Linked DNA regions of Homo sapiens. The protein of the gene in region 6 purifies or fractionates together with the protein of the main gene of each other region. This does not show direct contact. Each region holds a gene or a part of one and is shown on either strand. Other genes may lie near its edges.

Evidence for each region.
Region 1: the proteins of LYZL6 (region 6) and TMEM132A purify together in Homo sapiens (affinity purification with mass spectrometry; one large-scale study listed by BioGRID and IntAct). This does not show direct contact.
Region 2: the proteins of LYZL6 (region 6) and FKBP14 purify together in Homo sapiens (affinity purification with mass spectrometry; one large-scale study listed by BioGRID and IntAct). This does not show direct contact.
Region 3: the proteins of LYZL6 (region 6) and LMF1 purify together in Homo sapiens (affinity purification with mass spectrometry; one large-scale study listed by BioGRID and IntAct). This does not show direct contact.
Region 4: the proteins of LYZL6 (region 6) and CLGN purify together in Homo sapiens (affinity purification with mass spectrometry; one large-scale study listed by BioGRID and IntAct). This does not show direct contact.
Region 5: the proteins of LYZL6 (region 6) and ATP1A3 purify together in Homo sapiens (affinity purification with mass spectrometry; one large-scale study listed by BioGRID and IntAct). This does not show direct contact.
Region 7: the proteins of LYZL6 (region 6) and CTSF purify together in Homo sapiens (affinity purification with mass spectrometry; one large-scale study listed by BioGRID and IntAct). This does not show direct contact.

The regions. Positions count from the first base shown.
Region 1 is NC_000011.10:60,930,643-60,934,772, reverse strand, and holds part of TMEM132A (transmembrane protein 132A isoform b precursor), read right to left. Parts: coding exon 4,114-4,130; intron 3,088-4,113; coding exon of another isoform or gene 3,085-3,087; coding exon 2,889-3,084; intron 2,790-2,888; coding exon 2,646-2,789; intron 1,232-2,645; coding exon 1,029-1,231; intron 286-1,028; coding exon 9-285; intron 1-8. UniProt on the Homo sapiens protein: May play a role in embryonic and postnatal development of the brain. Increased resistance to cell death induced by serum starvation in cultured cells. Regulates cAMP-induced GFAP gene expression via STAT3 phosphorylation.
Region 2 is NC_000007.14:30,016,356-30,020,672, forward strand, and holds part of FKBP14 (peptidyl-prolyl cis-trans isomerase FKBP14 precursor), read right to left. Parts: intron 3,950-4,317; exon of another isoform or gene 3,858-3,949; intron 2,769-3,857; coding exon 2,641-2,768; intron 1-2,640. UniProt on the Homo sapiens protein: PPIase which accelerates the folding of proteins during protein synthesis. Has a preference for substrates containing 4-hydroxylproline modifications, including type III collagen. May also target type VI and type X collagens.
Region 3 is NC_000016.10:873,186-877,502, reverse strand, and holds part of LMF1 (lipase maturation factor 1), read left to right. Parts: intron 1-4,317. UniProt on the Homo sapiens protein: Involved in the maturation of specific proteins in the endoplasmic reticulum. Required for maturation and transport of active lipoprotein lipase (LPL) through the secretory pathway. Each LMF1 molecule chaperones 50 or more molecules of LPL.
Region 4 is NC_000004.12:140,420,780-140,425,096, forward strand, and holds part of CLGN (calmegin precursor), read right to left. Parts: intron 1-4,317. UniProt on the Homo sapiens protein: Functions during spermatogenesis as a chaperone for a range of client proteins that are important for sperm adhesion onto the egg zona pellucida and for subsequent penetration of the zona pellucida.
Region 5 is NC_000019.10:41,965,265-41,970,230, forward strand, and holds the end of ATP1A3 (sodium/potassium-transporting ATPase subunit alpha-3), read right to left. Parts: coding exon 4,921-4,966; intron 4,317-4,920; coding exon 4,171-4,316; intron 3,652-4,170; coding exon 3,521-3,651; intron 2,500-3,520; coding exon 2,398-2,499; intron 2,077-2,397; coding exon 1,985-2,076; intron 1,702-1,984; coding exon 1,673-1,701; 3' UTR 1,318-1,672; downstream 1-1,317. UniProt on the Homo sapiens protein: This is the catalytic component of the active enzyme, which catalyzes the hydrolysis of ATP coupled with the exchange of sodium and potassium ions across the plasma membrane.
Region 6 is NC_000017.11:35,937,016-35,941,180, forward strand, and holds part of LYZL6 (lysozyme-like protein 6 precursor), read right to left. Parts: intron 2,544-4,165; 5' UTR 2,342-2,543; coding exon 2,203-2,341; intron 902-2,202; coding exon 743-901; intron 1-742. UniProt on the Homo sapiens protein: May be involved sperm-egg plasma membrane adhesion and fusion during fertilization. Exhibits bacteriolytic activity in vitro against Micrococcus luteus and Staphylococcus aureus.
Region 7 is NC_000011.10:66,562,964-66,566,423, forward strand, and holds the end of CTSF (cathepsin F precursor), read right to left. Parts: intron 3,442-3,460; coding exon 3,328-3,441; intron 3,205-3,327; coding exon 3,059-3,204; intron 2,965-3,058; coding exon 2,868-2,964; intron 2,789-2,867; coding exon 2,708-2,788; intron 2,044-2,707; coding exon 1,924-2,043; intron 1,844-1,923; coding exon 1,779-1,843; intron 1,686-1,778; coding exon 1,595-1,685; intron 1,184-1,594; coding exon 1,125-1,183; intron 1,045-1,124; coding exon 970-1,044; 3' UTR 501-969; downstream 1-500. Other genes in the region: ACTN3 (alpha-actinin-3), read left to right, coding at 72-230. UniProt on the Homo sapiens protein: Thiol protease which is believed to participate in intracellular degradation and turnover of proteins. Has also been implicated in tumor invasion and metastasis.

The DNA.
Region 1 (4,130 bases), on a different chromosome or scaffold from region 6:
CTGCTTACCTCAATGGAGGTGACACCGGGCTCCCGGCCCACCACGACACGGCCACCCTCCAGAGAGGCTACACGCGAGTCCAGCACGCGGGCGTGTGGCGCCACGAGGTGGGACACGTCTAGCAGCCAGTCGGGGCCAAGCAGGTGCGTGAGGCGGCGGCCGCCGTCCAGCGGGTGGGCCGCGAAGGGGGCGAGGAAGCGCACACCGGCCCGCTGGTACTGCAGGTGGCAGCCACGGGCGCGCCGCTCGGCCTCATCCGACGCCTCTGCAGCGGGTTCCGCAGGCCTGCAGGGCGGGGAGGCCGGGACTGGCCGTCAGCGCTGAGCGGCCCCAGCCTGCCCAGGGCCCAGCTGCTGGAGACCCGCAGCTCGTCCCCGGCGGCTCCTAATCACCAGCAGCTCCTGTTTCTCAAACGCAGACATCCGCCCCTCTTGGGGTCAGGCCCTTCCACCTGCAGGCGAGCCGCCCCAGCCCACTCCCGACTGGCGCTGTGCCTCGATCACCGCTCTTGCTCCCAAGTGGACCGCAGGGGAGACGCTCTCTTACGGGGACCCTGGGGGCGCTCACTCTCTGAAGGGCCTGGAAGCTAGATTCCAGAGGCGTGGGCCACCTCTCCCTGGGTTTTGGGGAGCCCCCTCCGAGGGTGTTCATTTCCTGAGCTCTGTGTCATCTTAGGCTCTGAGGGTACGACCAGCATAGACAGACCGCAGCTTCAAGGGGCTGACATTCTCGGGGGAGGAGCGTGGAAAGGATGGACAGGCAACATTAACCAGTACTGACGTAGATTAGGAAGTGGAGGGTGCTACGGGAGAAGTGAGGCAGGGAAGGAGGAGAGGGATGCGGAAGTCAGCAATTTCACAGAAAGCGATCATTGGCTGGGCGGCCCAGGGTGGAGGTGGGCAGAAGGAACTGCAAGCAACAGGGCAGTTTTTCTGACCCCGACTTGGGCCCATGGCTGTGTCCCCTGCGCCCTCTCCGTCCCAGTGTGACTCGCCAAGGCCTGCCAGCTTCCTCAGGCCTCCACTCACCCTTCAGCAGGGCCAGGTACCCTCCAGCCGCGGACCTGCTCGAGGGTGGTGTCGGTGAGCTCGATACGCAGCGGTAGCAGGGGGGCCCACACGGTCAGCCGCAGCGAGGCGCGGAGCCGGCGCCACCAGAAGTCCACTCGCACCCCCCGGGCGCCCCGGCTCTCCTTGCCAGCCACGAACACGGCATCACAGGCCTCAGACACCTATGGAAGGGCAGAGGGCAGGTGGGCGGGCTAAGCCACTAAAGACAGGTGTGAGGCTGGGCCGGGTGGGTGGCTCATGCCTGTAGTCCCAGCACTCTGAGAGGCCGAGGTGGGTGGATCGCTTGAGTCCAGGAGTTTGAGACCAGCCTGGGCAACATGGCAAAACTCCCTCTCTACAAAAAATACAATAAATCAGCCGGGTGTGGTGGCACATGCCTGTAGTCCTAGCTACTGGGGAGGCTGAGGTGGGAGGATCCCTTGAGCCTGGGTAGCTGAGACTGCAGTGAGCCGGACTGTACCATTGCACTCCAGCCTGGGGACAGAGTGAGACTCTGTTTCAAAATAAATAGATTAAAAAAAAAAAAAAGGCATGGGCCAGAAGAGAGCAGCCCTGACCTCAGGCCGTAGGACGGGCTCCCACTGAGTTCAGCTCTGTGTGTCACTGGAATGCATGTTGCAGCAGGATTGTTGGTTAAGCCCCTGTTCTTTGTTTAAGATTTTACTGTAGGGGCCATTCCTTGAGGTTCCCTGGGGCTCAGTCAGGGGAACTGGCCATTGCATACCAGTCTTCCTCCTGGCAGAGCAGGGGTGTGAACCCAAAACTTTGGCTCCTTATTCATGCTGGCCTTTGACATTGCTCTTGGAGCCACCTGGCAACCAGCTACAGCCAGGTAGGCAGAGGTGGGACAAAGCAGATCTCCCACCAAGGCCCTCCAGCAGGAACCACACACATTTGAGCAAAGGACCACAAGTGGGGAAAGGCACCTTCCCCCTTCAGGTGGCTGGGATTTGCATACATGCAGACTCCATGCTTCCCCTCTTAGAACTTCAAGATAGAGGAAGTTGCTCTACCACCCTCCCTTTTATTTCACTTCACAATCACCGGTAATAATAATAATAATAATTTTTACCATTGTATAATTATTACATCATATTATAACAGCAATAACTGCCATTGTTTCAGCCCCTGCTATCTGCTAAATACTGTCTTAAAGTGCTTTTAATTCTTACAACAACCCGAAGATATGTTCTCATTTTAAAGTTTAGGTAACGAGGCTCAGAGAGGTTAAGAGACCAGCCCATGATCACAAAGCTGGTTGACAACAAAGATGTGTTTCAAACTAAAACTTTCTGATCCCAGAGTATGTGCTCTCGACTCTCTCAGGCCAGCGCACTTGCCAGTGCAATAATGAGCGTGAAAGTGTCTAAGGTCGGGGGGCTGTTAGGGTTACTTGACTCGGGAGAGAGGTGGCTGGAACAAAAGAAGTTGAAGCTGTGGTTCCTCCCATGAGGTTTCTCGTCTCAAGAAGAAGCTGTTCTCTTGGGGACCCACATGAGGAAGGAGGAAAGGTGTGTGTGCGTAACTGTGCCCACACAAATGCAGACTCACATGAGCTGGGCACCTGCCACTCACCTGCAGGACCTGTGTGTTGGCAGACTCGCAGCCGACATGCTCTGTCACCTCCACCAAGGCCCCCCCGCCGTCCACAGTGACAAGGCGCACGGGGACATGCTGGGGCACTCCAGTCAGTGGTGCTGTATTCACCAGCTCCTCAGCCTGGGGGTGGAGGAGGGGCTCAGCCCCAGGCCCCTCAGCTCATGGGGCTCCTGGGACTTGGCCTCCAGCCTTCCCAGGCAGAGATGGAGGTCTCCTTACCTTGGCCAGTGGGATAAGGGCTCTGATGTCCCGCTCAGACACCAGGATTTCCCACACCATTTTGTCCTTCTCTGCTTCAGGGGCCTGGCCTGGGTACTCCAGCTGCCACGTGACGGGGCGAGTGACCGCTACGCCCCCACCAGTGCTATTCTCCACCACAAAGTCCACCCATAGGAACTCAGACAGTTCAAGGGGACTGCTGGCCAAAGGAGACAGAGAAGCCAAATGCTTGCTAGCTGCCAGGCATGGCCTCAGCACTTCCTGCATTCATGATTATCCCCATTTTACACAGGAGGAAACTGAGGCACAGAGGTTACATAGCTCACTTAAGACCACACAGCAAAAAGTAGCGGGGCTGGGATCTAAACCCAAGCATCCTCGCTCTAGACCCCAAACTCTGACCCACTCTTGGCCTCTCTAAGATCCATGAAGCCATTTAACCACCTCCCACCTGGCAAGGTGGCTCACTCCCCTGCCTGCCCGGGCCCGCTTCCCCCAGACTTCCGCTTTCCACAGCCACTGAGGTGGCATGCGGGAGATTCACTTCCAGGTCCCAGGACCAGACACTTGACCCTCTGAATGATAAGCTTCCTTTGATCAAACAAAAACCTATGTGCTGGGAACCGTCCTGGGTGCCTGATATGTAGCACTGTATTTTATTTTCAAAAATGCTAAGGGATGCATTATTATTCCTATTTCACAAGTGAAGAAACTGAGGCTTGGGTAGGGGAATGTTAACTGGCTTGCCCAAGGTTTTGCCCATCCCAAAAGCATCAGAACCAGAATTCGAACTGGGGCTACTGAGTCCATGGCCTTGACCCAGGCTCAGGGCATGAATAAGAAGAGTTCACAACCGCAGAACTGCAGCTGGGCTTTTTGGGGGAATGTGAACGGCCCAGAGAAAGGATCATTTGGTGGAAGCAGGGGGATGGAGTAGTGGCTATGAGGGCTCTACCTGGGGCACAGGATTGGTTGGCATCTCTTAGAATAAGACTCACAGACACTTGCTATGCCTGGCACATGGCTGGGGCTGGGAAGATAGTGGCCGAATGAATGAATGAAGGAATGGATTATGCCTGCTTTGTGCTGCTTCCTTGAAAAAATCTGTCCTTGGGTCTGCTCACCTGGGGATCTAGAGGCAGCATGGCAGCCTCCAAATCTGCTCAACTGCACTCTATAACCAGCCCTCCCTCCTTTGCCCCCTGGGTGGAGGGAAACTGCCCACCTGGAATCTGGCTCTGT
Region 2 (4,317 bases), on a different chromosome or scaffold from region 6:
GTGCCTAGACTACAATTTTCCATTTTCATTTGTTTTTTTGTTTTTCTTTTTTTTTTGAAATAGAGTCTTGCTCTGTCACGCAGGCTGGAGTATAGTGGCACGATCTCGGCCCACTACAACTTCCAACTCCCAGGTTCAAGCGATTCACCTGCCTCAGACTCCCTAGTAGCTGGGATTACAGGCACCTGCCACCATGCCTGGCTAATTTTTGTATTTTTAGTAGAGACAGGGTTTCACCAAGTTGGCCAGGCTGGCCTCGAACTCCTGACCTCAGAAGATTTGCCTGCCTTGGCCTCCCAAAGTGCTGGGATTACAGGTGTGAGCCACCATGCCCGGACTCCATTTTCATTTCATTCAGATATTTAAAAATATAAATATTGTTTTCAATTTCCCACAAGATTCACCACAATGAAAATCAGCCTATATTTTCAGTTTTAATTATATCACCTCTCTTCCTTCTGTTTAGACCAGCAATTTCAAATCCTCTCTCCCCCAGCTTTCAAGAAGTACACATATAGTATATATTTATTTTTAAGTTAAAGTGATTTAATGCAGTTGTTAAAAAAAGGGGTGGGGGAGAGATCCATTAATCCATTAAACTCTATGGATTAATGTAGAATGTATTTCTAGGATATATTGTGTGAATAAAGCAAAACGACAAAACAGCATGTATAGTTTGCTTCTTTTTGTGTAAGAAAGGGGGAAATAAGACTATGTATTTGGATTTGCAGAAAGAAACACTGAAAGGATATATTAGAAACTAATAAAACTAAGCCGGGTGCAATGGTGCATGCTTGTACATAGCGAGACCTCATCTCTACAAAAAAAAAAACAGAAAGAAAGAAAAAAGTAATTAATAAAACTGGATGTGGGGATAATAGAATAGAAGAGGATGTAGGTAGGAGAAAGACTTTTAAAAATATGTAAATAATAGGCCGGATGCGGTAGCTCACACCTGTAATCCCAGCACTTTGGGAGGCCAAGGCAGGCGGATCACAAAGTCAGGAGCTTGAAACCATCCTGGCCAACATGGTGAAACCCTGTCTCTATTAAAAATACGACAATTAGCTGGGTATGGTGGCGTGCACCTGTAGTCCCAGCTACCTGGCAGGCCGAGGCAGGAGAATCGCTTGAACCCGGGACACAGAGGCTGCAGTGAGCTGAGATCGCACCACTGCAATCCAGCCTGGCAACAGAGTGAGATTCCGTCTAAAAAAAAAAAAAACAGTAAATAATAGAGATAAAGTCTTCCTATGTTGGCCAGGTTGGTCTTGAAGTCTCAGCCTCAAGCAATCTTCCTGCCTCAGCCTTCCAAAGTGGTAGGATTACAAGTGTGAGCCACCTCACCCAGCTAAGACTTTTAAATAAATATCTTTCTGCTGGGCACAGTGGTTCACGTCTGTAATCCCAGCACTTTGGAAGGCCGAGGTGGGCAGATCACGAGGTCAGGAGTTTGAGACCAGCCTGGCCAATATGGTGAAACCCCATCTCTACTAAAAATACAAAAATCAGCCAGGCATGATGGTGCAGCTACTTGGGAGGCTGAGGCAGAATTGCTTGAACCCAGGAGGCAGAGGTTGCAGTGAGCCGAGATTTTGCCACTGCACTCCAGGCTGGGCAACAGAGCAAGACTCCCTCTCAGGAAATAAATAAATAAATAAATAAATAAATAAATAAATAAATAAATAAATAGATTTTTGTTTTGAACCATGTGACTGTGTTATATATTCAAAATTATTTAATGAAAGGGAATTAAAATTTATCTTGGATGGAAGAAAAAGGCATGTGACTGGTAATACTATGAGGTGTTATAAATTTAGTGGCTGTGGATCATGAACCCCTGGTTCGTAACAATTTGGCTTATTCAAGACTTAATCATTTCCTGGCCATTAGAATGAATTTGATCAAAGCATAGAAAGGGACTTGATATCTGACCAGTCAGGACAGAATGGAGTGTGAGTAGATAAAAAACAGGAATAAATATCTCCCTCCACTTCTTTCCCCGCAGCAGCCAGACTAAGACAGGTATGTGTAGCAATGGCCGAATTATAAGGAGAAGCCTCTTCTTCCTTTCTCTTTACCCAAAGGCTCAGATTTTGATGGGGCTGGAGCCCTGCTGTGTAAAACCCAGGCTGGGGTCTCTTTTCTCTGGGGCAACCTGAACAAAACAGAGCATGTAAGTTGCTTGCTGTTAATTGCCAGGAAAACACTACAAGATGTATTTAACAGCCAGTCTACAGTTTTAACAGAAACTGTCCACATGAGATATTTCTCAGGACAGCTAGCTTCTTATACAGTAACTCCAGATGGAAACTGTCTTGGCAAAATTGTTCTTTCAAAGACCCAAGGGTAAGCATAAGATACAGTGAACCCTAAGCATTGGGAAGAAAAAAGCAAAAGATTGAATGGTGCTTTTTAAGTCTTAATATATTTCTCTCCAAAACAGTGATTCACTATGAAAAAGTCCACTTTCAAAGCATCAGTATTTTAAGAAAACTTATAAATAAATGTTACCTAAATAAAAGTAGATTTGAAATATACACATATTCATTTAAAAAGTGAGTTACAAAAACAAAACAAAACAAAACCCCAAACAACCAAAGAAAAGTAGAAAGAGGAGTAGGAAGAAGGAAAGGTCACCTCATCTTTAGAGAGTTTCCAGTCATCATTAAGATCCATTTCTTGGAATGATTCATGGGATCTTGGTCCATTTCGAATCTCCAGGAGATCAATATTAAATATCAGTGTACTTTCTGGGGGAATTTTACCTGACGTGAGGAAAGAAGGCAGAAAGTTTTAAAAGAGCCAAAAGTTTTAATAATAGAAAATTTATGGTAATGGACAAAGTATTTTTTTTAACTGAATTAAAGAGCCTTCCTAAGATTGTCATATATGATGAAAATTATGTATATTATATTTTACTCGAATAGAATAGAGTAAAAGAAGAAATAATATACACTAGCAGAGCAAAAGCATTCTATCTTTGGCTTAGCAATTAAAATGTAAATACACATACACACAATGCATATACATACATAGAGATGTACCTAATGGCTTAGGTATTACATTTCTAATATAATTAATATATTACATATTATATGTCAAGAAGGACTTGAAGGGTTTTAGATAATTCGGAGTTAAGTATATTAAAAGTAATAAACTAACTTTTTGGTCAGAAAGTCCTGACCTAGAAATACATACAGTATTGCCATTTCTACCACTAGAAGGCATTTCTACCCATATAATTGAGTAAGCTCTGGTGTCACACTGTCTGAGGCTGAAGTTTACATTTGCCCATCTCTAAGCCTCAATTTCCTCATCTATAAAATGCAGATAATAAATTTCCTCCTCAGGAGTCTGTTGGGAGGATAAAGGGAGAAAAATCCATGCAAAATACTTAGCATTAAACTTGACAAATAGTAAACTCTCAATACATGTTATTGAGGTATAATTTTCTCACAGGCTTTAAAAATAATGCAGGAAGGTTTAACAATTTCAGAAAGTTAGGAAACACTACCTCTGATATAGAACATTATATATATGTTGAAGACATTTCATGGGAGGGGAGAAATTAAAATGAATTTCTGAGAAGGGAAATTAAAAATCTTTAAAAGTGAAAAGAGCTTTGTTAAAATCCCAGGAACCTGAAACAAACAAACAAACAAACAAACACACCCATCTGTGGAGTATGGACAATTGTTTTTCTCAAACTTGTTTCCTTATAACTATATTTAACATACAGGTCTGTGTAAACATGTTAAATATTTCTTAGTCATCCTCCCCCCATCCCACATATTTCCATGAAAGAACATTCATAAATTCCAAAGAGAAGACTTATAAAGTGTGCTGAAGCTTACCATTTCAGATCTAGACAGAGATGTGACATGCGCTAGGTTGTTGATAAAACTGGTATCTTTCCAAAAGAGGCATGCAAGCATGTACTAAAAGACTACAAAATTAGTGTTAAATACAGATTAGAAAAATTAGTTTCATGGCATTCAGTTTGAAGGAAATGACTCAAATTTAGATCTCTACTTATTGTGAAGTAAACTTGAGTTAAATATAGTATGAGAAAGAGTAATGGACTAATACAACGTACAGTAGTCCCCACTGGGATATGTCCCAAGAATCCCATTAGATGCCTGAAACCATGGATAGTACCAAACCCCATACATACAATGCTTTTTCCTATACATGCATATCTGTGATAAAGTTTAATTTATAAAATAGTCATAGTAACAGATTAAAAATAATAAAATAGAACAATTACAACAACATATCATAATAAAAGTTATATGAATGCAATCTGTCTCTCAT
Region 3 (4,317 bases), on a different chromosome or scaffold from region 6:
AAGCAAGTTCACATTCCCAGAACATCTGAGCCTCTTCCTCTGCGGGAGTCTGGAAAGCAGAGGTGACCGTCCCTCACACCTGGCAGTGCTCCTGCATGAGGCCACCTGCGCCGCCAGGGTCTCTGTGACTGATCACCCTTGCGGGCCGTAGGACACGCAGAGTTTCCATTCCTTCTTGACTTGAGGCAGTTTTTGTGGTGAACATTTCCCTGGGAATTTGTTCATCTGTTTTCAAATCTTTTGGCAAAAAAAGTCATAGTATTATCTTAGTTTTATAGCCTCTCAAGTAGCCGGGACTACAGGTGCCACCACGCCGAGCTATTTTTCATTTTTTGTAGAGCTGGGGGTCTCGCTATGTTGCCCAGTCTGGTTTTGAACTCCAGGGCTCGAGCACTCCTCCTGCCTGACCTCCTAAAGTGCCGTGACTGCAGGTGTGCGCCCGGCCTCAAGGCCTGTGTCCTCACCGACACGCATCTCCTGAGACAGCGGGGAGCAAGGTCATGCTTAGGGTCAGCGTGGCCGTCTTTCTCTTTTAAGTAACAGGCCCGTATATCTCAACTGACATATTTGGACGTATTTCCACATCTTTGTGTTTTTCTCTTTGTTCTTTGTATCTTTCTCTCTCGTTTTTTTCTGTTATTTTCCCTCCTCTAATGGATAAGGAAGATCCTCTGTTTCCTCAGTGGTTATCAATCAATCAGCCATGTTAACTTACTGAAGGTCTCAGTTTGGGCAGCATCTTTGCCACCATGACCCCCCGAGGTCCTCAGCCCGCCCAGCCCGCCTCTGTCCAAGGTCCTCAGCCCACCCAGCCTGCCTCTGTCCGCCCCAAGCCACTTGCGTCCTTTGCTCCAGTGTTTCAGCTCTGTTTCGTTTTATTAATTGACTTATTTTAGAACACTTTTAGATTTTCGGAAAAACTGTGCAGAGACTACAAAGGTTCCCTTATCCCCCCCTCCCAGTTTCCCTGCGCTCAGCGTCTTGCATCGGCCAGGACCTTGTATAGTTGATAGGCAGGACTGATAAACTGTTGCCAACTAAAGTCCCGGCTGACAGGAGAGCCATTCGCAGTGTTGCTCATTCTGTGAGCTCCGACAAACGGACGACGACACGTGTCCCCATCACAGCTTCATGCAGAGTCGCTTGTGGCCCTGGAAGTTCTCTGTGCCCCGCCGACCCTCCGTCTCCACGGTACTGCCTCTTCCGGACATCCTAGAGTGGGAAGCATTGTGCAGCCTTTGCGGACTGGCTTCCTGCCCTCCGCGGCCGCGCGTGGGCTCCTGCACCTCCTGCAGGCTCCACTGCTTGTTTCTCTTCGGTTCCGAGACGCCCGTGGTCCGCACGTGCCCCGGTTTGTTTCTCCACTCAGCCTCTGAAGGGCAACAGACGGAGCCCCGGGCACATGTGCTTCCCACAGGGCGCACAAGGAGGGTTGTGCTGAGCACAGGCGTGGGGCCAGGGCCGGCTGTGCCAGCCCCGGGTCCCACTGCCACCCAGGGAGGGGTGTCCAGCCTGAATGGAGGGGTGTGTTCCAGGATTCCTGACCTGGGTGGGGCCACACACACGGGTGACTCCTGAGCCGTCTTCAGCCATGCGGTCCTGGGGTCCCAGCTGCTGGAGGAGGGCCGGGCTGGAGACTCCCGGGAGTCACCCCGACCCCACACACCTCCTGCGTGGGCTGTGCTGCCCCAGGGTCCCGCCTGCCCCTGCCGGTGGAGAACACAGAGATGCCCACGCCAGGCTCGGGTCTGGTTCCGAGGCCGGTCCAAGGGCACCCCTGGACACACAGCCCAGGCAGGGGTGTTGGTCTGCTTGGCTCCGTGGCTGCCTGGCAGTGGGGAGTGCTCAGGATCCCACCTCCCGCTTCCATGGCCCGTGTACCCTGTAGCGTCCCTCCCTCAGGCTGTGCTGGCCAGTTCCACCACTGCCCCTCTCCCGATAAGCTGATGCTGCCTGGGAGAAGCTCTCATGAAAAGCAAGGTGCTGAGTTACTTAAGTAAATGGAGAAAGTGGGAGTCACTTGAGGGCTGAGCTACCGTGACATGGAATGGGGAGGTGACCCTTGAACCAGAGGCCTCAAAAACGTCCTTGTTTATTCAGAACGCAGGAACCTGGCCAGGGGGTTAGATGAGAATTGGACCAACGGGCCCTGGTGCAGGCAGACAGGGACCCTCCCAAGCATGACGGCCAGGCTGCGGGTTCCCTTAGTGCCGGTGCTGGCCCCGTTTTGGAGTCCGCTGCCTGGTGGGGTGAGTGGCGGTGGACAGTGGGGATGCTGAAAGGGGAGGGGACAGAGCTGGGCCTCACTGCACCTGGGACTGTGAGCACCACCCTCAAAGACCCGGCACAGGCAGCGCCTCCCTTCCAGGCCTCGGAGGTCAGGCTGCGTCATCCTCTCCAGCCCCACACTGTGTCCAGGACGAGGTGGAAGCACCAGGGTCGTGGCTGTGCTCTGCGGCGTGGCCTGGCGTCCCCCCTTGGAAGACAAGATGGTCGGCCGGCAGTCCCGGCTGCGATGTATCCTGCCCCCTCACAGGCAGTGTGGGGTCTTGAACTAGGGCTTTTGCCCCCACAGGCGTACAGGGCAGAGGGTGTCTGGGGGATGATATGGTGTGGGGCTGAGAGTGACCCGCGCCCTCTAACATTGTAGTGTCCTGGCTGGGGCTGCGTACTCCCCTGTGCCGCGCTGTGACAGCCGAGTGCCCTGAGACTTCTGAGCGCCGCCTGCCTGGAGCCTGTCCTGGTTCCGTGTGTTCCCATCTGAGCGCCGCCTCCCCGGATCCCGTCCTGGTTCCGTGTGTTCCCATCTGAGCACCGTCCCCCGGAGCCTGTCCTGGTTCCCGTGATCCTTCCGTTGGGGAGTTGCGGCATGAGCAGCCTCCCTCCTCCCACGCAGTTTACACAGCTGTTCCGGAGGGTTCCGCGGGGCCCTGGGGCCGCTGCCTGCCTGGAGAGGTGCACAAGAGCAGTGACCGCAGAGCCCGGCCGCCCAGCCAGCACCCCACGGGAGCCATCAGCCTCCACTAGGGCACTGGTGACAGGGAGACGCAGCCCCGGACTGCCAGGGCGGGAGGGGCAGGGGGTGAGCTCAGGTCTGGAACCTCTGAGGCGCCTGCCCACAGCGGGCTGTCCGGCCCCACCCCACCCCGCCCTGCCCAAAGGGCTCCTTGCCCTGTGGTGGCTGCACCCCACGCCCGCTCAAGACAGAGGCCCGGAGGCCCTGCCAGCCCCGCACACACAGGCCGGCTGTCCTGAGGCTCTGTCCCAGAGCTGGGCTCACCGGCCCTTAGCTGTGTTTCGGTTGTGATGAAACAACACAGATAACGCAAAGTAAGTTCATGCTTTTGAAGTGAACTCGGGGGCCTCCAGCACGTTCACAGCGTGATGCAACCGCCGCCTCCGCCTGGTTCCAGAACTTCCCATACCCCCCCCACACCCGGCAAAGGAGACCCTCACACCCGCCGCCGGGCCTCCACCAGCCACTGGGAGCTTCATCTCTGGATTCCCGACTCGGACGTTCCATGCAACTGGCATCCTACAATGTGCGGCCTCCGTCCAGCCTCCCTCCCTGAGCACCATGACCCTGGGTCTGTCCCTTTCGGGGCACGTGCTGAACTCCGATTCCTTTGCAAGGCTGCATGCGTTTCCGTGGGTCAGGCATAGGGCTCTGGGTCACTGCTGTCGTGGATGCTGATGGACTGGTGTTAGACCTCAGCAGATTCTCTACCTCCCACCATGTTCTTCTGCCCTCATCTCCTCTCTGTGACACTGAAGAGAGACCTGGGTTCACGCCCACCAGAGTGCCCACCTGGAACACAATGCATTTCCTCAGCAGAGGGTCCCCGCGAGCGCAGGGGTGTCCTCGGCGGAGGGTCCCCGCGAACAGGCATGTCCTCGGCGGAGGGTCCCTGTGAGCGCGGGCGTGTCCTCGGCAGAGGGTCCCCACAAGCCACCTGTTCTCCGTGGCAGCTGACAGGCAGGAGGCTGCATCCAAAGATGCCACTCTTCCTTCTTGGGGCCATGCGCCGTTGGCCTCGGAACACCTGCTGCTCCGTCTCTTGGGCCCAGGATTCCATCACCTCAAGCTCCTCTTCCTGTGCCGGCCTTGGGGACCCCCTCGGGCCTCGCCTCCGCTCCCAGCCACCGGCCGGGTCATCTGTGGGCCGCACAGCCTTGTGAGGACTCCGCCGGCGGGGGCGAGCACAGATGGGCAGTGAGAAGACTGATTTCCCTCTGAGGAGATGGCTCAGTGATGCTAGAAGAAAAACAAGGAAGGCGAGGTCCCCCAGGAGCGCTCAGGCCGTGCACTCTACGCGG
Region 4 (4,317 bases), on a different chromosome or scaffold from region 6:
CTGAAACTCTGAGAGGTCAGATGCTGGGGTAATACTACAAGAAAATGAAGTAGTTAATTTATGCATTTAAAATTGTTTTAAATCACGTGGTAAAACATTCTCATTGTTGTACAACTAATTTCCAAAACTTTCTTCATGCTCTAAAACTAAAACGCTATACACTTTTAACAACTCCCCACTACCCTTCCCTCCAGCCCCTGGAAACCATCTTTCTAATATCTATCTCTATGATTTTGACTACTCTAGGTACTGCATATAAGTGGAATCATACAGTATTGGTCTTTCTGTAACTGGCTTATTTTACTTAGCATAATGCCCTGAAGCTTCATCCATGTTGTAGCATGTATCAAATTTCCTTCCTTTTTAAAGCTGGACAGTATTCCATTGTGTGTATACACCACATTTTGTTTATACATTCATCTGTCAGTGGACACTTGGGTTGCTTCCACCTGTTGGCTGTTGTGAATAATCCTACAATGAATATGGGTATACAAATAACTCTTCGAGACCTTGTTTTCAATTCTTTTGAGTATATACCCATAAGTTGAATTGCTTGGTCATATGATAATTCTATTTTTTTTTGAATCCTCATACTGTTTTCCACAGTGGCTTTACCATTTTACCTTCCCACCAACAAGGCACAAGGGTTCCAATTTCTACACATCCTTGCCAACATTTGTTCAAAATTATGTTTTTTTAAATAGTAGTCATTGTAATAGGTCCTAATATGGCGTAGTATCATATTGTGGTTTGATTTGCATTTCCCTGATGATTAGTGATACTGAGTATCTTTTCATGTGCTTGTTGGCTATTTATACATCTTCAAGGGAAACATGTCTATTCAAGTCCTTTGCCTATTTAAAAAATCAGGTTTTGTTTTTGTTTTGAGTTGTAGGAGTTCCTACAAATTCTGGATACTGACCCCTTATCAAATATATGATTGGCAAATATTTTCTCCCATTGCATAGGTTTTTCATTTTGTTGTGTTCTTTGATGCACAGAACTTTTTAATTTTGAGTTTTCCAATTTATATATTTTTTCTTTTGTTGTCTGTGCTTTTGGTGTCATATAAAAATTACTGGCAAATTCAATGTCATGAAGCTTTCCATGTTTTCTTTTAACAGTTTTATAGTTTTCTTATGTTTAAGTCTTCAATCCATTTCGAGTTAATTTTTGTCTATGATTTAAGGTAAGGTTACAACCTCATTCTTTTGCATGTGGATAGCCAGTTTCCCCAATATCATCTCATGAGAAGACTGTCCTTTCTCACAAAATGGTCTTGGCACTTTTATAAAAAAAATTTGAACATATATGTGGGAATTTATTACTAGGCTCTTTATTGTATCCCATTGATATATATGTCTGTCTTTATGCCAGTCTCACACTGATTTGATTACTATAGCTTTGTAATAAGTTTTGAAACAGAGATGTGAGATTTCCAAACTTATTCTTTCCCAAGATTGTTCTGGCTATTTGGGGTCCCTTGAGATTCTATATGAATTTTACTATTCTTGCAAAAAGTGCTATTAGGATTATGACAGGGATTGCACTGAATCTGTAGATTACTTTGGGTTGTGTTTCCATCTTATTAAGTCTTCCAATCCCAATGAACACAATGTCTTTCCATTGATTAATATTTGTTTCTTAATTTCTTTCAGCAGCATTTCATAATTTTTCATGTACAAGTATTTTACTTCCTTGATTTATTCCTAAGTATTTTATTCTTTTTTATGTTGTTATAAATGGAATTGTTTTCTTAATTTCCTGTTCATTGTTAGTATACAGAAGTGCAACTAATTTTTGTGTGCTAGTTTTTTTACCCTGCAACTTTAGTGAATTCATTTGTTTGTTTTTTGAGATGGGATCTCACTCTGTTACCCAGGCTGGAGTGCAGTGGCACCATCATGGCCCATTGCAGCCTTGAACTCCTGGACTCAGGTGATCCTCCACTTCAGCCTCTCGAGTAGCTGGGACTACAGGCAAGCATCACCATGCCCAGCTAATGTTCTGTATTTTTCTGTAGAGATGGTTTTTGCCATGTTGCGCAGGCTGGTCTTAAACTCCTAGACTCAACTGATCTGGCTACCTTGGCCTCCAAAATTGCTGGGACTACAGGCATGAGCCACCATGCCTGGCCTTCATTTATTATTTCTAACAGACTTTTGTATTGTGTTCGTGAAATCTTTAGGGTTTTGTACATACATATAAGATCATGTTATCTGCTGAGATAATTTTACTTCTTCCTTTTCAATTTGAATGTCTTTTTTCTTTCTTTTTCTTCCCTAATTTCTCTGGCTCGGGAGAAGTGGAAAAAGCAGGCATCCTTGTCTTATTCTAGATCTTAAAGGAAAAGCTTTCAGTCTTTCACCATTTAGTCTGATGTTAACTGTGGGCTTTTCATATATGACCTTTACTATGTTGAGGTGGTTTCCTTCTATTCCTAGTGTACTGAGTGTTTTTTATTATGAAAGAGTGTTGAATCATGTCAAATGCTTTTTCTGCATGAATAAAGATGATCATGTGTTCTCCCCTCCCTACATTGTAAATGTGGCATGGTACACTGATTTTCTTATGTTGAATCATCCTTGAATTTTAGGAATAAATCCAACATGGTCATAGTATATAACTCTTTTAATATGCAGCTGAATTTTGTTGTCAAGTATTTTGTTAAGAATTTCTGCATCAATAATCATCTGGAATATTGCTCTGTAGTTTTCTTGTAGTGTCTTTGGCTTTGATAACAGGGTTATGCTGGCTTCATAGAATGAATCTGGAAGTGTTTACTCCTCTTCAATATTTCGGAAGAATTTGAGGAGGACTGGTGTTAATTCTTTCAATGTTTGGTAGAACTCACCAGTGAAGCCACCTAGTCCTGGGCTTTTATCTGCTGGGAAGTTTTTGTTTACTGATTCAATCTCCTTACCAGTTACAGGTCTGTTCAGATTTTCTACTTCTTCATGATTAATCTTGATAGAGTGTGTGTTTCTAAGAATGTATCCATTTAATCTAGGTTATCCAATTTGTTGCCATACAATCCTTCAGCGTATTCTCTTATAATCCCTCTTATTTCTGTAGAATCAGATGTAATGTCCTTTCATTACCAATTTTAGTTATTTGAGTCTTCTCTCATTTTTCTTAATCTAACTAAAGGTTTGTTAATTTTTTTGTTGACCTTTTCGAAGAATTAACTCTTGATTTCACTTGTTTTCTCTCTTGTTTTTCTATTTTCTATTTTGTTTCTCTCTGCTCTAATCTTTATTATTTCCCTCTTTCTTCTAACTTTTGGGTTTCATTTGCTCTTTTTCTAGTTCCTCAAGGTGTAAGTTAGGTTGTTAACTTGAGATCTTTTGTTTTTCATGTAAGTGCTTAAAGCTATAAATTTCCCTTTTAACACTGCTTTCACTGTATCCCATAAGTTTTGGTATCTTTTGTTCTCCTTTTCATTTGTCTCAAGATGTTTTTCTAACTTTTCTTGAGACTTATTTGGCTCATTGTTCAAGAGTGTGCTGTTTAATTTCCACATATTTGTGAATTTTTCTTGTTTTCCTTCTACTATTGATTTCTAGTTCCTTTCCTTTGTGTTCAGAAAACTTACTTTGTATGATTTCAATCTTTTAAAATTCATTAAGACTTGTTTTGTGGTCTAATATGGTCTATCCTGGAGAATGTTCTATGTGCAGTTAAGAAAAATGTGTGTTCTGCTATTGTTGGGTACAGTGTTGTCCATATGTTTATTATGTTTAGTTGGCTTGTGGTGTTATCTATTTCTTTATTGATCTGTATGGTTGTTTAAGTTATATAATTTTAGTACAGCAAGAATTTGTTTATATGGTATAGGGTAGAACATTTAGTGCTAATGTCACCCTCTTCCCTCCTTATAAATTAAAAGGTAGCATGCCCAGGGTTCCAAGCTTCTTATGTATTCCTCACTCCATGAGGCTTGCTGAGATCACTAAATATCAGTTGTGCCTTCATAAGAAGGGAGGCACTGAAGAACTACATCCTTCTGCACCAACACGTATCTTTGATCTCATGTATGTTCTCTGCACTGCTTCTGTGGTAGTTCAATAACAAATTGAAGCACAAGTAACTTTATCCATGAATGAGATACCATTCTTCCCAATCTTTGAAATCTAGATCAAGTAGTCTGGTCTACTTTAAATAATTACACCAATATCTCCTAAAAACCCTACTGGATCTCCACTACCACCCCCAAATTACAAATTATAAAGTGCAGCTCATGTACTGGTATTGAAGTAATGCTCACTGTCACATCAAAGGTAAGTAAGGCACACAAAGAAAAGACAATCACAGGAT
Region 5 (4,966 bases), on a different chromosome or scaffold from region 6:
ACAACTGATGTGTGGTAACAGAAACCAGATCAGCTCTTGCCTCTGGAGGGGAGGCGACTGGAGGGGCTCCAGTGAACTTTCTGGGTGGAGGGAAAGGTTCTATGCCTTGATGTGGGTGGTAGCTTTGCAGATGCAACTTTTTTTTTTTTTTTGAGACGGGTTCTCGCTGTTGCCCAGGCTGGAGTGCAGTGGCATGATCTCGGATTACTGCAACCTCTGCCTCCCGGGTTCAAGCAATTCTCCTGCTTCAGCCTCCTGAGTAGCTGGGATTACAGGCATGCACCACCATGCCCAGCTAAGTTTTTTGTTTTTTTGTTTTTTTGTTTTTGAGACGGAGTCTCGCTTTGTCACCCAGGCTGGAGTGCAGTAGTGGGATCTTGGCTCACTGCAAGCTCCGCCTCCCAGGTTCATGCCATTCTCCTGCCTCAGCCTCCCAAGTAGCTGGGATTACAGATGAGTGCCGCCACGCCAGGCTAATTTTTTTTTAATTTTTAGTGGAGACGGGGTTTCACCATGTTAGCCAGGATAGTCTCGATCTCCTGGCCTTGTGATCTGCCCGCCTCGGCCTTCCAAAGTGCTGGGATTACAGGTGTGAGCCACTGCGCCCAGTTTTTTTTTTTTTTTTTTTTTGTATTTTTCGTAGAGATGGGGTTTCGCCATGTTGGCCAGGCTGGTCTCGTACTCCTGACCTCAAGTGACCCGCCCGCCTGGGCCTCCCAAAGTGCTGGGATTACAGGCGGGAGCCACCGCGCTTGGCCTGCAGATGCAATTTTTAAAATCATTGAGCTATACCCTTAAGATGCGTGCACTTCACTGTATGAAAGTTTATCTCAATAAAAAGAGAGAATAGCGTAGTGACCTAGAACTTTGGACAGCCTTGGTTCAAATCCCAGATTTGTCTCTTCTTAGCTGTGTGCAAATCACTTCTTCTCTCTGTGCACATTTAATGCACACTTAGAAGTGGGCAGAGCACATAGCAGGCACTCAGTGAATCACTGTCATCACCATCATCATCGTCATTGTGTCCCCTGGGTCCTACTCCTATAGGAGAGGCTCCCAGTCACCATCCCACGTCTGCTTCCCTCCCTCTCCCCTGTTCTGATTCCACAATGCCATCGCCTGGTGAATTCAAGCTGCTCTGACTTTCGTGGAGTTGAAAACTCCGTGATTAGATGGCTCTGAGATTCCGTGACTTCCAAGCCAGTGCCAGGCTAAGTTCCTGCAGTTTCGAGAGTCGCCTGGCAGCGCGCCCCAACAGAGGGGATGCTGTCCCAGCCGCAGTCCCCGTCTGGAAAGCAGGCACAACACACACACCGCTTCTCTCTCCCCACTGATATATTTGATAATTGTCCAGAACCAGAGATGGCATCAGCCGGGGGGCTGAAGGGGAGTAAAAAAGAGCCCAGGGAGGTGGCTGGGGCGGGAGGAATGGATAGAGGGGTGAGGAGAGGGAGAGAAACTGACACAGAAAAGAGAGAGGAGAGAGGTTTGGGGCAGGGGAGAGAAGCCAGCCAGAGTGGGGGCGGCAGGAGATAGTGGAGGGGGTGGGGGCCAAGGTGGGGCCACAGGAAGAGAGGGCTCCTCCCCCCAGAATACAAAATTGGGGGGACTGACAGGGGCGGTCCTGGGCCTGGGGGACGGGGAAGAGATGGGCGATGTGGTGGGGCTGAGGTCAGTAGTAGGTTTCCTTCTCCACCCAACCTGGAGAGACAAAGAAGGAAAGAAAGAGACAGAGTAAGAGATGGAGAGAGACAGGCAAGGCGAGCCGCCCAGCAGAGAGAGGGACAGAGAGGGAGAGAGACAAGGAAACCACACAGACAGAGACCCGTGAGAAGACAGAGTGGGTGCCCGGAGAGATGGGAAGAGAGAGAAGAGTGGGAACCAGGTGGCAGAGCCATCCAGCAGGGCGAGGGGAGCCTGGGACCAGCTGCCTGAGACCCTGCTGCCCCCCGCCCCCCTCGGCTGCCTTGCCGAGCTCCCTCACCCCCTGGGTTCCTGCGCAGGATGAGTTTGCGGATTTCGTCGTAGACGAAGATGAGGAAACTGTAGGGGAAGGCACAGAACCACCAGCTGGGCCTGCAGAGGGGAGAGCAGGAGGGCTTGAGTGCGGGGCCCTAACGAGAGGCAGAGTTTCAGGGGACTGGAGGGGACGCAGAGGGGCAGTCTCCCAGGATCCTTCGTGCTCACAGGTGGAGGGTGCCCTGGGCGGGGCTGGGGCCTGGGGTCTTCGGAGTAATCCGTGGTGGGAGCAGCCTATGGGGGAGGCTCGGGGGCATCAGAATGGGGACTGCAGTGGGGACACCAGGGGAGGTGGGGCCTGAGGTTCAGGCTGAGTCTAAGGGAAGGCTCCATGGCAGGCGCTGGTGTGGGCAGGGCTGGGGGCAGCGGGGCACTCACTTGAGAGGGTACATGCGCAGGGCCACGTCCATGCCGGGGCAGTAGGACAGGAAGGCAGCCAGGGCCGTCTCCTCAAACAGCCCGAAGATCAGGATCTTGTTCCTGGAGGCACAGAAGGGCAGGGCTGGGCCCAGAGAGCACCCACCCTGCACCTGCCACCCCGCAGAGACAGGGGGAGGCACAGTGCAGACACCCAGAGACAGCAGCACAGACACAGAGACAGAGAGGCAGAGACATAGGGAGAGACAGAGATGGGGAGACATGCCCCGACAGAGAGAGACAAAGATAGAGGCAGAGCGATGGTGACACAGAAAGAGACAAAAGACAGGGACAGACACAGAGACAGGGACAGACACAGAGACAGACAGGGACAGACAGAGAGACAGACACAGGGACAGACACAGAGACAGGGACAGAAACAGACACAGAGACAGGGACAGACACAGAGAGGCACTGGTATAAAAAGAAAAGGCCAGGGGCACCTCCACCACACACACAGAGGCTGAGAGAGAATCTAGGACACACAGGACCCCTTGAGAGAAAATCAGTGCAGTGGCAAAACCCAAAATGGGCTGGGCATGGTGGCTCACACCTGTAATCCTAGCACTCTGGGAGGCTGAGGCAGGAAGATTGCCTGAGCTCAGGAGTTTGAGACCAGCCTGGGCAACATGGTGAAACTCTACTAAAAATACGAAAAATTAGCCGAGCCTGGTGGTGCGTACCTGTAATCCCAGCTACTTGGGAGGCTGAGGCATGAGAATCGCTTGAACCCGGGAGGCGGAGGTTGCAGTGAGCCAAGATTGTGCCACTGCACTCCAGCCTGGGCAACAGAGCAAGACTCTGTCTCTAAATAAATAAATAAAAATTAGCCATATATGATGGTGCACACCTGTAGTCTCAGCTACTCAGGAGGCTGAGGTGGGTGGGTCACTTGAGCCCAGGAGGTCGAGGCTGCAGTGAGCTATGATTACACCACTGAACTCCAGTCTGGGTGACAGAGTGAGACCCTGCCTCAACAAAACAACAAAAAACCAAAGCAAGGACACAAGAGGAAGTACACAGACAGACAGACACTCGGACAGGACAGATGGCTGTCCAGTCACCATGTGCCCCCGGCCCTCACTTCATGCCCTGCTGGAAGACCGAGTTCCTCCGGGTCTTGCAGATGATCAGATCGGCCCACTGGACGACAACGATGCTCACAAAGAAGGCCGTGTGGCAGGTGAACTCCACCACCTTCCTCTGCTCGTATGTCTGCAGGAGCGGTGACCAGGGCACGGGACGTCAGTTAGTGGCACTGCAGCCCTAGCCGCCACCCCGACGTTCCGGTGCTCTTTGCCCCGCCCCATCCTGCATGGGGTCCTCAGGGCCTCAGGTGTGTCTTCCTTCTGCGGGCTCATAGTCCCGAGGGAGGAGTCAGGAGACGTACAAGGAAGAAGAAAGGTTAATGGTGATCTCACCATCCACCAGGGGCCAGGGAGGAGGATAAGGACCCTGTGGGCCTCCCAAGGAGGACAGACAGCAACTGGGCTTTGAAGGGACAGACAGAGGTGGGGAAGAAGGCCTGGCAGGGCAGAGAGCTCCAGCAGTGGGACACAAGGCTCCAGATGGGCTGGGCCAAGGGCATCCAGGAAGCCCCAGGTGCCCAGCAAAGGCCTTGATGCTGCCATGGGAGACTGAGGGGGCCATCGTAGGAAGTGGCCATGCATGGCTGGAACAGCTCACCCCGGGGATCTTACGGTGGGCAGAGACACAGCACCCTGCCCTACTCACCCACTGCTGCCCGTAACTGTCTTCCAGGTCATTGACGGTGCGGTCATCCCAGTTCAGCCGGATGCCCACCAGGTTGCCGGGCAAGAAGCCATTTTCTGCCAGGATCACAAAGTAAGAGAAGAAGCCACCGAGAGCCTGGATCATTCCTGGAAGGAGGAGAGAGGAAGCCGAGGAGAGGCTCAGATTGGGGCCAGCAGCCAACCCAGGGCACCTCAGAGGGCCCGGAGGCCTCCTTGGAGAGGGGAGTATGCCCTCCTGGCCCTGTTATCTGGACATTGGTTCCCAGAGGGTGACCTGAGGTCTCACTTGGTGGTGAGGCCCTGAGATGGGTGGGCCACCTGGGACAGGGGCTTTGGAGAGAGGGCTCTCCCAGAGGGATAACCTGGAGCCCCTCTCTCACCTGACCTAGGCCACCTAAACATCATGAATTCTTGGGGGATCCCCAGCTTGAGCTCCCTACGCAGGAATGACCTCCCTGGGCCTGGAACCACTGCCATGAAGTCTCTGCTTGCTGGGACAGCCCCCAAGGGTGGCTGCTCCACTCCTCTGGGGATCCGCACACATCAACAGCAGAGAGGAGGAGGTGGAGAAGGATGGGGTGCAGACCCCCCCCACAGATAGCTCACTGGTTGGTCCTGCCCACGTCTGCTCCCCTGAGTCAATGCCAGGGTCCCAAGCACCCACGGTGGGCCAGGCACTGCTCTAGGCCCGGCACTGGGTGGTAAGGAGATGGAGTCCCCGGTGCCTCACCAATCTGCCCGTAGGCCATGCTGATGAGTCTCTCATTGACCAATTT
Region 6 (4,165 bases):
GGGTGTGGGCAGAAGGGGCAAGAGGCCTGAGATTTGGGCCTGTTCACTACTATTCTTCCTAACCAGGGTAGATAGTGGTTCACTCAAAGTTTGTGGGAGGTTTCCAGGGAGAGGAAATGCCAAAACACCACAGAGGTATGTCCCGCCTAGTGAGCGGGGGTCTTCAGGCGAGGAGCCGAGGGACATCGGTCAGTGTGCGAAGGCAGAGGTGAGGGGCAGAGTCATGGGCCCTGTCGAGCCTCCTGGATCAGCTCTGAGGTAGGGAGTTTGCACTTGGTCTTTGGTCAGATCATTAGCTAAAGAGGGTACTCCGGAATGGTTAAGAGCCTGTGAGGCCATTAGTCTGGCATTCAATGCTGGTTCTCTTTTTGAGCCTCAGTTTGCTGTTTTGTAAAGTAGGGATCATAAATGGTTTCTACTGCATGAAAGTTGGATGAAATAAGCCAAGTATGTAAAGCACTTAGTGTATAATATTCTCTCAATAAACATTGGCTGCTGCAACTGTTCTACTACTACCAGCTGTATACGGAGCCTTCCTGGATCCTACTCAGGGACTCTATAGAATCTCCTAACTGGATGGGCATTAGGGACACTACTCCAGCCCTCTGCTCAGTAAAGGGATTCCCTGATTTTTTGAACCATATTTCTGGGGCCATTCCCAGGCTGTGGGTGGGAAGAGAAGTTCTGTGAGCAGAGCCTGGTTGCTGCTCTCATCTCTCCCACCCTGGGGCCCTGGCCAGACCTTGACAGTCTACGTGGCAAAGGTTTTCCGAGTAACTCTTATAATCGTTGCACCAGTAGTGGCTGTTGATCTGGAAGAGGCCATAGTCAAAGCTTCCGTCTGCATTTTCATTTATCTTTGATATGTTGAACTTGCTTTCCACAAAAGCCAGGCACAGCCCTTAGAGTAGGGAGAAGAAGGTCAGGATTTAGAGGGGACCAAGCTGAGTGAGAAGGGAGATGGAGGAGAAAGGGAGGCAAGGTTTCAGACAAAAGGAACAAGGCCTGGGAGGCAAGATAGGACTAGAGGGCTTGAAATCTCCATTGACTTGCCCTCTTATCCTGTGGTCCATCCACCCACTCATAAGTACAATTACTCATCTGTCCATCTATTCATGTGTTTTGCACTTACTGAGCACCTACTGTGTGCCAGGAACTGTGCAAAGCCTAGTGAGGGACATTTCAGTTGGGTCAAACACAGATGCTGCCTTCAAGGGGCCTGTATTACAAGCTTAAAAATATGTACCTAAGCTTGTAATACAGGCCTTGTAATAAGCTTGTATGTACAAGCTTAAAAATATGTACAAGCTTAAAAATATGTATGCCGGGCGCGGTGGCTTATGCCTGTAATCCCAGCACTTTGGGAGGCTGAGGCGGGCGGATCACGAGGTCAGGAGATCGAGACCATCCTGGCTAACACGGTGAAACCCTGTCTCTACTAAAAATACAAAAATTAGCTGGGCATGGTGGTGGGTGCCTGTAGTTCCAGCTACTGGGGAGGCTGAGGCAGGAGAATGGTGTGAACCCAGGAGGCAGAGCTTGCAGTGAGCCAAGATCGCGCCACTACACTCCAGCCTGGGTGACAGAGCGAGACTCTGTCTAAAAAAAAAAAAAAAAGGTACCTAAAAAACCCACAAAGCAAGATTAAAGGACAAAAGTGTTGCAAGACAGGTGCACACAACTCCTGGGCAAAAGGGAGATATCCCTTCCATGCAGGAGGAGAAAGCCTTTGTACTAGCTGTCCCCTCTGCCTAGAGTGTTCTTCCCCCAGACATTTGGGTGACCAGGTCCTTCATTTAATTCAGTGCTGCTTAATGTCATCTCCTCAGAGAGGCCTTCCCTGACTTCCCCATCTAAAGAATTCACCATTGCTCCCCCTGCTTTATTCTTCTTCATAGCATTGGTCACCACCAGGCAGTACGTTATGAGTGTGTTTGTTGCTGCTCTCTTCCCCTAGGATGTGAACATTATAAGGGAAGGGAATTTGTTTATCTCTACAGCCCCAGTGCCTAAAACAGTTGTTGGTACATAATAAGTGCTCAGACAATAACTTGAGTGAATACAGCGTGTTGGGAAAGGCTTTTTTGAAGGGGGCTGCTTTTTGAACTTGGCTTTGAAAGATGAACAGGAGAGAAAGAAGCTGGCCATATAGGACATGACTAGCAGAGGAGAAATGGCTGGGGAGGGGCGGATGGTACTCACAGTCACTCAGGGAGTAACCCTCAAACCCATCCAAGTCCTCCAGCTGCAGCACCTGGGCCAAGTCACAGCGACTGATGAGGCTGGCCTGATTTAGGGCAAGAAAGCTGCTGACCAAATAGATGAGTAGCGCCTTTGTCATCCTTGGAGGGGAGGAGGTGCAGCTGAGGGCTGATGGTTCTTAGGGTCTTGCAGACTTTCTGCTGATCTTCTCTGAGAGCCTGGGGAATCTGGAGAGGGCAGCCAGGTTTCCTTACTCACTCACTGCTCCAACCTGGCTGTTTCCAATCTCTTTTCTCTTGTTTATTATTTTATAGATTTTTATTTATCATGGAAAATTAAACCTTTAAAAAAGGAAAGAGAATAGTATCATGAACCTCCATATACCCACTTCTGAGCTTCAACATTCAAAAACCAAGGCCAATCTTTCTTTGTTGTTGTTTGTTTTTTATTTTTTTATTTTTTAGAGATGGGGGTCTCACTCTGTTGACCAGGCTGGTCTTGAACTCCTGGCCTCAAGTGATCCTCCCATCTCAGCCTCCCAAAGTGCTGGGATTACAGGTGTGAGCCACCACACCTGGCCAATCTCATTTCATCCATAGGTCCTCTTATATGGGCACCCAGCTATGGGTAGTATTTGGGTATTGGGATGGGGAGTGAGGTTGGCAAAGGAGATTACTGAAGACTATCTTCACCAGCATATGTGTGTGTGTATCTGAGCATGTGCTTTTAGAAAGAGGGCCAGGACACTGGGTGCTAATCTCCCCACAACCCCACTCCCCCAGACACATGACACATGATTTTTCCCAAGGGCATACCCTGCCTGGTACAATTCTTGGTGGGCTGGCTGTAGACGTAACCTTCACTTTCACATTGTGTATGTGTGTGTGCGCGTGTGTGTGTGTTGAATAGCAAGGGCCCTAGATTCACACTGCCTGCTTTCAAATCCTGGGGTGCTATGTGACTTTGGGCAACATACTCAACCTTTCTGGGCCTCATTTGTAAAATGAAGATATGCTAATACCTACCTAAAAGGGTTGTTTTGATGATTAAATGAAATAATGCCCAGATCTTGGTTCACATTCCACACAAAAGGGAACCAGGACTCTAGGAAATATGGCTGATTCCCAGGCTGGAGCAGGAAAGGGTTATGAGATGTCTGGATTATCTTGCTGTACAAGAAATTTAAAAAGTGCTCGAAATATGTATTGGGGCATGTCAAATGGACACAAGAGCTAGCTCAAAGGGGCACCGACTGGCCAGATCTGAAACGATGTTTTTTGGTAACAGCATTATTGAGATATAATTCATGTATCATACAATTAATTCAGTTAAAGTGTACAATTCAGTGGTTTTCAGTATGTTTGCAGAGTTGTACAACTACTACCTCACTTGATTTTAGAATATTTTCATCAATCCAAAACAAAACCCTGCACCCATTTAGCAGTCACTGCCCATCCCCCACCTCCCAACCCCTGGCAACCACTAATCTACTTTCTGTCTCTATGGATTTGCCTCTTCTGGACATTTCATACACACGGAGTTACAGAAAATATGGCATTTTGTATCTGGCTTCTTTCACTTAGCATAATGTTTTGAAGTTTCATTCAGGTTGGAGCATGTAATGATACTTCATTCCTTTCTATGGTTGAATAATATTTCATTGTATGAATACACCATACTTCGTCTATCCATTCATTAGTTGATGGACATTTGGGTTGTTTCTATTTTTGGCTATCATGAATAATCCTACTATGAACATTAACATACTAGTTTTTGTGTGGATATATGTTTTTATTTCTTTGGAGTAGAGTTGCTGGGTCATGGGGTAACCCTAGGCTTAAGCTTATGAGGCCTACCAGATTTCCAAAGTGGCTGCACCATTTTGCATTCCCATCAGCAGTGTATGAAGGTTCCAATTTCTCTACATCCTCACCAACACTTGTTATTATCTGTCTTCTTGACA
Region 7 (3,460 bases), on a different chromosome or scaffold from region 6:
AGGCGGTGGAGGGGCTGGTGGGCTAGGGCAGGGCACGGGACCTGTGGGTCCTCAACGCCTCTTCTCCCCAGAACTACATCACCCCCGAGGAGCTGCGGCGCGAGCTCCCTGCCAAGCAGGCCGAGTACTGCATCCGCCGTATGGTGCCCTACAAGGGATCCGGGGCCCCGGCTGGAGCCCTGGACTACGTGGCCTTCTCCAGTGCCCTCTATGGGGAGAGCGACCTTTGACCCCAACCACTGAGGTTCTCTATGCAAGATGGAGAGAGGATGCACCCTGTGGCTGATCCCATCCGTCCCTCGGAGCAAGGGCCTAAGAGAAAAGCCAGCCAAGTGCTTCTGAATAAAGATCCCTCTCTGGGTCTCTCCCCATCTCCTTTTAGTTCCTGAAGCAGAAGCTGGCCCCTCAGGCTCCTGGGCAGGACCAGCTATCCCACCTTGACCCGCCAGGAGTCCCTGCCATCTCTCCTCACCCCCGGGGACTGAGCATTTATACCACACTCGGGACAAGGACACCTCTTTATTGCTGTTAGAAAAGGGTGGTTACAAGTTTCCTGGACATGGAGAGGGACACTATCCCTAAATCCAAGGGAACCAGAAAATTTATAGTATCAAACAGAGGAAAGCGGGGGCAGAACAGAGCTGGGCTTAAGATCAGAAAATTTTCTTCCTGCTCATTACCCAAGCCCAGAGTTCTTGCCCCAGCTTCAACTGCCAAGATACCACCCTTCACCCCGACATCCTCCTAAGCTACCACAATTCAACAAAGGTGCAGGTGCAGAACTTCAGGGTGGGAATGGGGTGCAGGGAAGCAGGGGCTGTGCCCCAGCCCAGTGCCCTCTGCTCACCCTGAGGTACCCAGTGCCTTTCCCTCTGCCAGCTGTACCTCCCGGGGAGGGGCCTGGACACATGTCAGGCTGGGGCAGCAGCCACTCTGATCAGCACCAGGTCCCGAGCTGGGGGCCCCTCTTCAGTCCACCACCGCCGAGCTGGCCATGGTGTTCACGCCACAGGCCCCGGACCCACGATGCAAGTAGTAGTAACCCTGGGGGAGAGGGGGAGCTGGTGAGGGCACCAGGGTAGGATGGCGGCTGGAGGGCCAGGGGCCAAGCCAGCAAGACTCACCTTCTCACCCCAGTCAGTGCCCCAGCTGTTCTTGATGGCCCAAAAGGGAACGTCAGAGCCTGGGGTGCAGTGCAGAGCGCAAGGATCAGGGTCCTTAATTCTCCAGGCAGAGCCTTAATCACTTTGCACCCTTCAAATACTTGCACTGGGCCTACTGTGTGACAGGGACTAGGAAAAGAGCAGAAAGCGAGGGGCCCACCTACCAGCCTCAGGGAGAAGCCCTGGGGCAGGGAGGAAGCACGCACCCACCCGCCTATTGCAGGTTATTAGGCCATCAATATTTACCCTCCCACAGCTCAGCTTCCCTGCCATAGAGAGGACAGATGATGCCCAGCTGGTCATGGCCCAGGCAGTGGGTAAGGACAGGGTTCCTAGGCATTCCCCCTATTTCCCCTCTAGAGGACCTGAGATGCTGTGATCCCACCCCTGCCTGTGGCCTGGCTGGATGCAGGACAGGCAGCGGAACTCACGGTTGCCGTAGCCCACAAGCAACACCGCATGGTCAATGAGCCAAGGGCTGCAGAGGGGCCGGAGAGGGCGGGAGATCCCGTGGCGGTAAAACTGGAGGTGGAGAAGGAGTAGGGGATCGACTCCAAGAAGAGGTCGGGGAGGTCAACAAGAGATGGGGCAGGGGCAGTGGGGCTAGGGCCTCACCTGCATGCCAAAGGCATTGATGGCCACGGAGATTGGGCCTCTCTTGGCCAGCCAGGCTGCCAGCTCTGAGATGGGAAGGGGTGGCATCAGTAGGCACCCAGGCCCCGGCCCCACCTGACCTCACCTCACCCTGCCCCTCACTCACTCTGCTCGTTCTGGCTCAGCTCCACGGAGTCATTGATGTAGACCTTGGCCTTCTCTGCTGAGAAGTTGCAGGACTGCATGTGACCCTGGTAGCTGTAGTCATCCTCTGTCTCCAGCCCTCCTGGGGAACGGTGGGGGTGAGTAGAGAAGGGCAGGCTCCCATTTGCCATTCACAGCCAGAAATGAACTAAGCCCTCTACGCGAGGTTTCACATTCCTCGTCCACCCCAGGCCACAGGCCATCCCCTCTGAAGAATGTCTTCATTCTAGAAATGACACATCTGAGGCTGGGAGAGATGGGGAGGAGGGACCAGTAGCCAGCAAGAAAAGTGGCAGAGACAGAACTCAACTCCAACTTCTGACTCCTCACCAAGAGCTCATCCCAGCAGTCTTTCACCCAGGCTGGAGTACAGTGGCACAAACATGCCTCACTACAGCCTCAACCTCCTGGGCTCAAGCGATCCTCCTGCCTCAGCCCCCCAAGTAGCTGAGACTACAGATGCAAGCCACCATGCCTGGCTAATGTCTTTAATTTTTTGTAGAGATGGGGTCTTGCTATGTTGCCCAACCTGGTCCTGAACTTCTGGCCTTAAGTGATCTTCCCAAGTTGGCCTCCCAAAGTGTTGGAATTACAGGCATGAGCCACCACGCCTGGCTGGGTCAGCATTAAGACCTGGACCCAGTTCTGTGTAACTCTCATGCTCATGTCTCCCCCCCATTATGAAGTAACTTCTTGTACAGGGAGAAGTGGCTCCGGTTGCCCCTCCTGACCCCATTAATGCATACCCAAATTCTTTATGGCCGAGTAGGCATTGGAGGGCAAGCCGCCCATGCAGGCCTTGTCCATCTTGTCACAGTCCAAGAGCTCTAGGAGACAGAAGGCTGGTCCCAAGAAGCCCTCCTGAGGGGCTAGGCTGGGGACAGAGGAGTAGAGCGAGATGCTCACCCTGTTCAGAGAGGGAGAGCAGGGTCCCCTGGTTGAGAAACCACTGGCCCTCCACATTGCCTGTGACTGAGAAGGCCCAGCAGGAGCCACACATGCCCTACAAGAGATGGGTGGAGTTGGAGTCAGAGCCGGGCCCCTTCGTCAGCCCCAGTGCAGTGCCCATGTCCCACCCTCACTTCCAGGGGTCCAACCTGGTCTTTGACTTTTGTGACAGCCCCCTTACTCCTCCAGTCCCATTCAGGTGGGGCGAGGTCACCCACAGACTTGGCTTGCTTCATCTTGTTGCCAGGCTCTTTCCTCAGGAGAGTATTCAGGTAGATAGTGCGGAACTCCTCCTCTGCGGGCAAAGGTGGGCAGGGCATGGGGAGGAAGAGTGTTCTAAGCCAGACCTGACCAGAGGCCTTGCGAGCAAGGTCCTGTCTCTTCCTGGATCCATGAGGACTGTGGCCACTATCCCTACCTGTGAGATCACTGAACTTGGTGACTCCATACTGAGCTGTGCCACGGTCCAGGGCCTGGATCTTCTGTGCTCGCACCATGTTATTGACAAAGACGGACAGGCGCCACCGGGCTTCTGAGGACCAAGGAGCAGA